2 linked regions of the Homo sapiens genome follow. The protein of the gene in region 2 purifies or fractionates together with the protein of the main gene of each other region. This does not show direct contact. Each region holds a gene or a part of one and is shown on either strand. Other genes may lie near its edges.

The links. The genes of interacting proteins can lie anywhere in the genome.
Region 1: the proteins of TSEN15 (region 2) and AASDHPPT purify together in Homo sapiens (co-immunoprecipitation; 2 studies listed by BioGRID and IntAct, with this or other methods). This does not show direct contact.

Annotation. Positions count from the first base shown.
Region 1 is NC_000011.10:106,096,929-106,099,195, reverse strand, and holds the end of AASDHPPT (L-aminoadipate-semialdehyde dehydrogenase-phosphopantetheinyl transferase), read right to left. Parts: 3' UTR 501-2,267; downstream 1-500. UniProt on the Homo sapiens protein: Catalyzes the post-translational modification of target proteins by phosphopantetheine.
Region 2 is NC_000001.11:184,070,591-184,075,929, reverse strand, and holds the end of TSEN15 (tRNA-splicing endonuclease subunit Sen15), read right to left. Parts: intron 5,315-5,339; exon of another isoform or gene 5,198-5,314; intron 3,774-5,197; coding exon 3,632-3,773; coding exon of another isoform or gene 3,620-3,631; intron 3,104-3,619; coding exon 3,083-3,103; coding exon of another isoform or gene 3,067-3,082; 3' UTR 1,718-3,066; downstream 1-1,717. UniProt on the Homo sapiens protein: Non-catalytic subunit of the tRNA-splicing endonuclease complex, a complex responsible for identification and cleavage of the splice sites in pre-tRNA. It cleaves pre-tRNA at the 5' and 3' splice sites to release the intron.

The sequences.
Region 1 (2,267 bases), on a different chromosome or scaffold from region 2:
ACTAAAGGAAATAAGAAATTAGTATATGGTAAGGATAATACATCACTCAGCTGTATACAGCAGTTACATAATCTCAATAATGTACACATATCCTTAGTGTAATCACAGTCAACAATGTAAACATTGAATTGTTATGTTGGGAGGAGAAAAGGGGATAAAAAGGGAATGTGTAATGCTGGGAAGCAGAAGAGGGAAGCTTTATTTTGAAAATCAAAGAAACAATGCCTAAAATTAAAAAATCAAGTAAAAGCAATATAAGCATGTCATTTGGAGACATGGTAATAAATAACAAAAAAAATAACATCTAAAAGAGTTGAAAGGGCTTGCCCTGGAGACAGGAAATGGAAGAAGTCAGAGTAATGGCCTTTTTCCTTAGGAAAAAAATCTTACAGATCTATCCAATTTTTTAAAGCTGTGTACACATGAAACTTTGATTAAAAGTAATAGAAAAACTAAAAACTAAAAAACACAAATCCAACACAGTGTCAGGCTCATAGAAATTCCATAATAAATGTTCATTTTTTTATTATTATAATGACAAGACAAAGTTTTTCATATCACCATTACACTCATGCTAGGGATAACAATACTTCCTCTATTATAAATGCTACTTGACCTTTATTTACTATGCTTGGCATAACTGGGCATGCTTAATAAAATAAAAAAAAAAAACATTCAAATTTTTTTCTTTTACTAATCGAAGTACCTAATTTTATACAATTTGCACACTTTTAATGTTAGTAACAGAAACAATGAAATTATTTTACTTCTTGATACTTAAGAGTTTAACTCCAAGACATGCACTACAACCACATAATAGATTTTTGTCATCAATATGATGGTCCTGGCATCTTATATATTAAGTTCACACTTTAAATTAAGTACTACTTGCTAAAACGAAAACAGGTAAAAACAATGAACAGACGGTTCACGTTAAGAGGAATACGAAAAGCCAATAACAATACTGACATAACAATCTTATTTGTAATGAAAGAAATACAAATTTTAAAAATGACATACCATTTTTTAATTACATTGGCAAAAATTAAACCAAAAAGAATACCTACAATTGACCAAGGAGTATTCTGGCAGGGGGAGGGAAGTCACATACATATAGTACTAATTAGAGGGGTAAATTGTATAATTAAAGCCCTATGAACCAGTCAAACCAATCATTCCACTTTTAGAAACTTTCTCAAGGACATAATTAAGCATGTAACTCAAAATGTACAAGGACATTCACTCTGCCACTGCTTGTAGTAATAAACTGCAGATAATCAAAATGTCTAACACAGAAAAAAGTGAGTAAATTATGGTAAACCTTTCTTATGGGAAGGCAGTGGGCTTCCAATTCCATTCTTCACACCTAGCTTAGCTTCTTTCTTTTCAACAGAGTCTACTTCTAACAGAGACCAAAAATGTCAGACATTGCCTTTCTCTGTAACCTGATCTAAGTCAATGGAAACTGAGGGGAAATCTTCTGGAGGCTTTTGTTAAAAATCTTCCTCATGGATAAAACAAATGAGAGACGAAATGGCCTTTTCTGCCTTTGAGATACAATTTTACAAAGATGTAAAACTGGAAGTTATAGCAGCAGCTCTTGTGATCGAGAGGTGGAATAGCCTAAGGCAAAACAAACCAACTGAGGTCAAGGCAAAAAAAGTGTGTCTTTAATGACACCCCTGAACCCTGTGTTATGTCAAACAATTTCCTAGGTTACTTAGGCCAATTATATTTGGACACTGTTACCTCTGGCCAAAAGCATCCTAACTTGTATTAGCTATACAACAGAGTACATTAGAACCACAAAAAGTTATGTTACAGAGGTATATTTATGAACAGTAGATGTGCAGTTAAAAAGAATTTACAAAACAGTACGTTTCCATGTTTTTAAAAAAATCAAATATGTCAATATGGATTCATTTGCCAAGAAAAAGGTCTGAAAAGATACTCAAGGTTTTAAGAGTAGTTATCTTTGAAAGATAGCATTTAAATGTTTCCTTTTGCTTATGTGCATTTTCTATTTTTTTCTACAGTTAGCATGTATCACTTTAAGATTCCGCCATCCTTCCTATCAATTCAATGCAATTTAGGAAAGAAAGAGGTAAACATGTATTCCAGTGAGCTATCTTGAACCAGAAGTCTGCTTTTTTTTTTTAATTGGAAAAGTTTCTGTTCTTTAAAAAAACTTTCGTGAAATAAAATTTGATACTAAACAAGCATTTATTTTTCAGTGAATACGGAAGATCACAAACAGTTTTCATTTC
Region 2 (5,339 bases):
TGGCTAAGAAAAAAAAAAATATATATATATATATATAAAACCCACCCCATCTACCCCTACCCTAAACAGGCTTTTATTTCTAAATATAGATCTACATTTTAAGCAAAGCATGAATCAAGTCACATATTTAATGTCAGTATAATTTTAGAGGCATGCCAGAAAGAAAAAGGGGATGTGAGTACGTAAAACTTATTTATATTTTTATTTATGCTATTTCCTACAGATTGAAAATAAATTTTCAAGAGTACCACTTCTCCAGCTAATCTACTCTTAGTAGAGTCTGAAAATGCTGTGGTTATCTAGCAGTGCCCTCTGGTGTCCAAATGAATTGTTTTAGTTTGCCTTGAGGGAAAAAATAAGCCATTATATAATCAGACACGGCTATAATCAGCATTCATTCATTTGCCAAGTATTTACTGAGGGTTTACTATATGTGAGTTACTGTGCAAAGAGGCAAGATACAGAGATGTATTAAAAAATACATTTCTTGTTCTGTTCTTAAGGAGCCCAGTCTAACAGGGAGACAAATGTAAACTCACTTACAAAATTACTTAAATCACTTTATCTAGTTTTTCATTAAAATGAGACATACACAGCTGGGTGGCCTCCCTTTCCAAAAAGTTCTGGGCCATTATTCATGTTAGGATGTGTCTGGCTGGCTTTGGACAGAACAACTTTGGTGAAGTACACAGGGAACATTCTGAAATAGAGTAAACATCCCAAGACATACAGCAGGATTCAATCCTAGTTTAAAGAGTTGGGAAAGCGCCTTTCACAGCCAACCCCAAAAGACACTTCTGGTTTTGTAGTTATATAGGAGCCCACTGGTCAACAGATCCGACACACAAATCTGACATTATCCTTACACTTCTTTCTGAAAATGCTATTTTTCTAGAATTATAATGAAAGACCTCAAAATGAATCAAACGAGAGACTTAAGAAATCAAGAGACCCTAAGAATTTATCATAAACTGTTTGAGGATTCTTAGACCTGCAAATTTTCCACTAGAGTCACCCAAACACATATTGTTCTGAATAGGTCCATCTTCATGTCCTCTGGGGAAGCAGAGGGAGCCTGAAGGAGTTATGGAGACCTCCCACCAAGAATAAAAGTGAAATTCAAATACCATCAAAGGAAGGAGTCAGGAATGACTACAGATGAAGAATGATGCTTTATACTATTTTGTGATGTTCCTAATTTTCATCATTTTTCCATTCTTGTTATTGTTGTTTCCTAATCAGCCATGAAACCCTAGTGTGTAGGCAGGACCTATGACCTGCTTCCAATCAACAGAATACGGCAAAGGTGATGGGATGTATGTGATTACATTATATAAGGATTATAAGGTCCATCTTGCTGAGACTCTCCTTTGCTGGCTTTGAGGAAGCAACCAGTTATATTGAGAAGGCCCACGTGGCAAAGAGCTGAGGGTGGCCTCCTGCCAATGGCATATAAGCATTGAGCACTCTCAAGAAATTGAAGGCTACTAATAACCATGTGGGTGAAAAAGCTGACCCTTCCCCAGTCAAGTCTCAGATGAGACTGGAGCCCTGCCCAACACCTTGACTGTAGCCTCATGGAGGACCCAACTAATCTGTGCCCGGGTCCCTTGCCCACAAAAACTATAAGATAATAAATGTGTGCTGTTTTAAGTTGCTACATTTGTGGTAATATTATTTTGCAATGATAGATAACTAATACAGATTTCAAGACACCTTTTAATTTTAAAACATTTTTATTATAAAATACAAATAAAAACATTGAGAAAAGACAAAGTCATCCATTTTCTGCCTCCTATCCCACTATAACCAGTTAGTAATTTGATTTACTTTGTTATCTTTTTATCATATGCTTGGTCTGTTATTTCAGCCATGATTACACCCACTTATACACTTTTCCGTCTTGCAATTTTTACTTAAGGTAATATTTTCATGTTTTTAATAATATTCATTACTAATTTTTAATAAGTACATTATGTATCATTTGTATATATCTGTTTATTGACTATTTCCTAGACCCAGGGATGACAAACTATGGCACCACATTTGTAAACAAAGTTTTACTGGAACAAAGCCACGCCCGTATTGTTTATGTATTGTCTATGGCTGCTTTTGTGCTTCATACAGCAGTGTTGACAAGTTATGACAGAGACAGTAGGTTTAAAAACCTAAAATAGTTACTTTCTGGCCCTTTATAGAAAAAGTTTGCCAATCTTTACCCCAAACTTTAAAGTGGTTTATAATTTGGGCTACTAAAAGTAATGTCACTTGGAACATCTTTGTGCATATAATTTTTTATACTTTGTACAATTTGAGAGACATTAACAAAAGTGGAATAACTGGGTCTAATTAATGAAGACATTTTTACGGTTGATTCTCTCCCACACTGTTGTAATATTCAAGCTATGATATGTGATAAGAATGAAAAGGATAGCCCAGAACTCTTGTAGGTAACATGTCTCTGGTCCCTGTTACTTAAGACACGTAAGTTACTTAAGACACACTCTGGATGAACATATTTTGAGTTTTGATTTAAAGTTAACCAAAAAAGAGAAATAACAGTAACTGCAATGGGAAGACCAATTGAAAGAAATCTTTTACTTTTTACTGGAGAGGAAAAAGTAAACAGAAGTGGGTGACAAGGTACATATAAAATGCCATTCTACGGTAGCTGCAGTGGCCAAAAGGCACTGGGGAGAGCTGAGTAAGAGAAAGAAATGGCAGTCTCAACAATGAGCTGGCAGTGGCAGCAAGAAACAAAGAGACAACTTTGAGTGTGGGATGACAAAAGCAGCACACAGGTCCCACCCATCTGAATACATCCTAGGCATAAACCTGTATATAACTGTAATTAAACTGTCTCTAGATAACAAAGTTTTAAAGAAATCACCCTATATTTTTTAAGAAGGAGAAAGTCTTCTACCTGGGGAAGTTTTACTCTTCAGAATGAAAACCTTATGGAATGGGGAAGTCAACCCTCACTATGTACGTCAACCCTATTTCTGAGATAAAAGATGAAGCAGTCTGATGGGTCTCAAATCCAATCTTGTATGAATAAAACAAGCATCAGGAAACATGGATGTCATCTTCTAAGAGAAATATTCTGGAAAAAAAAAAGATCAGGATGGACTTTTCTCCGATAAACAATGTAATCCAAAAGCAAAATTAGAAAGATATTTAATGTAATTATCCAAATTATACCAACAAAGTATGTAAAGAAATCACATATAGCACATTTATCTTATTAAAATGTTCCTGTCAAAATGTCAACCAATTTAACATTTCTTAAATAAGCGTTTTTTTACTTACAACTATTATTAGCCTTTACATTCCACCTCAGCTACTCACTAAATAATTAAATGCATGATGACTTCATAAAATACTTTGGAAAACCATGAAATTCTCCAAAGAGTAAGGAAATCAATTTTTTTTTTGCAAAAATAACTAGGAACATGCTACTTTGAACAAAATATAACCAATTTTCTGACGTCTGAAAATCAAGACTTTTTTTCTTGAATTTTCCCTATGGCAAAGGAAGTGGCAGTTCTGTGACTGACTTGAGTCACACTTAAAATCACGTCATAATTTTCCTCTTTTTGTACTTCTTGCTGTCAGTTACCTCAAAACTGACCTGAGGGTCTGGCAGCATAAATCCATCAGTAAGTTTATAATAGACTATTGTAGAATCAGACTCCACTATGGCCAAAGTAAAAGACATCGGCAAATCTGGATCACCTTGCAACTTTCGAGATGCCTTCAAGATCTCCCTTATCCTGAAAATAAAGTCACAATATACTTAGGAGTTGCGGTCACTCAATTAGATGAGATGTGACAGAAGAAAGCACTAGAAAACTTGAAAACAGGTCACAAGAAACCAAACTGAAGTAAAAAGAGAAAAAATAATTTTAAAAAATAACATCAGAGTCTTCTGGTATAGTATCAAATAAGTTCAACATTACACATAATTGGAATCACAGAAGGAAAGGAAAGAGAATGGTATAGAAATAGTTGACAGTTTTCCAAAATTGTTGTCTCTGAATCTGAAGTGTATCTTTTGTAGATAGCATATAGTTGGATCTTGTTTTTATATCCAATCTGACAATCTCTGCCCTTTTGAGTGTTTATTCAAATTTAAAATTAACATTGGTATGGTTGGATTCATGCCTGCCATTTAGCTATTTGTTTTCTATATATCACATGTCTTTTTACTTCCTCTCACCCTCCTTTATCACCTTCTTTTCTATTAAATAGGTATTTTCTAGTACACCATTTTAATTAATGTATTTTTTTTTACTATAGTTTCTTGAGTTTCGTAGTGATGACTCTAGAGATTACTATTGCGTCTTAGTTTATCACAATTTCTCTCAGCTTAATACTAACTTGATTCTAAAAAATATAGAAATTGCTCCAATAGAGCTTTATTCCTTTCCTCCACCTTTATGCTATTATTGTCATATATGTTTATATATTTAAACCCAGTAATATAGTGTTGTAATTATTACTTTAAATAATTTTCTTTTTATAAAGTTAAGAGGAGAAAGGAAAATATATTAGGGTCTTTTACATTCACATATTTAATATTCCTGGTATTCTTCATTTCTTCACATAACTGTCTGGTGTCATTGTTTACTCCAATATAGCTTCATTCCTTCCCCCATCCTTTGTGTTAATAACATCATATAAGTTACTTCTTAACGTGCTATAAGGCTGGTCAGTTGATTTTTGACAAAGGTACAAAGGCAATTCAATGGAGAAAGTCTTTTCAAGGATACTTGAAATGAAGATAGTAGTACACCTTTATGTTTACACATAAGATTATTATATGAATCAATTAAATGGCATATATGAAAAGACTTCATAAACTGTCAAGTGGTCATATTATGTAGTATATATACAACTTTGCTACCTTGCAAATTGGGATATAATATTTATAGATACCCCTGCCTCCATGATTATTGCTAAAACTGAATACTAACCCAAACATACTAAGGTACACTGTGCCATTAGTGGAAATACAGAAAATGTTTCTTTTCTGAAACAGTCTGAATCCCAGAAATTGACTTAGTCCTTAAAAAATTATTTCCACCTATGCTGAACTGCATTACAACTAGCTAGATTCTTATTCACAAGAATGATTTACTTTAGAGAAAGATATTCTGATAAAGCAACGATAGATATTAATCAGAAACTTCATTACTCAGCACTGATGGGAAGTCACACTGTGATAAAAGGCAGCATATCACAATTGCTTCTTCAATGCAAATCTTTTAATGTAGCTAAGTATTTTCCTTCTTCAAAAGTGGCACGCCAATATCTAAATTAATAATAATAGAAAAAGA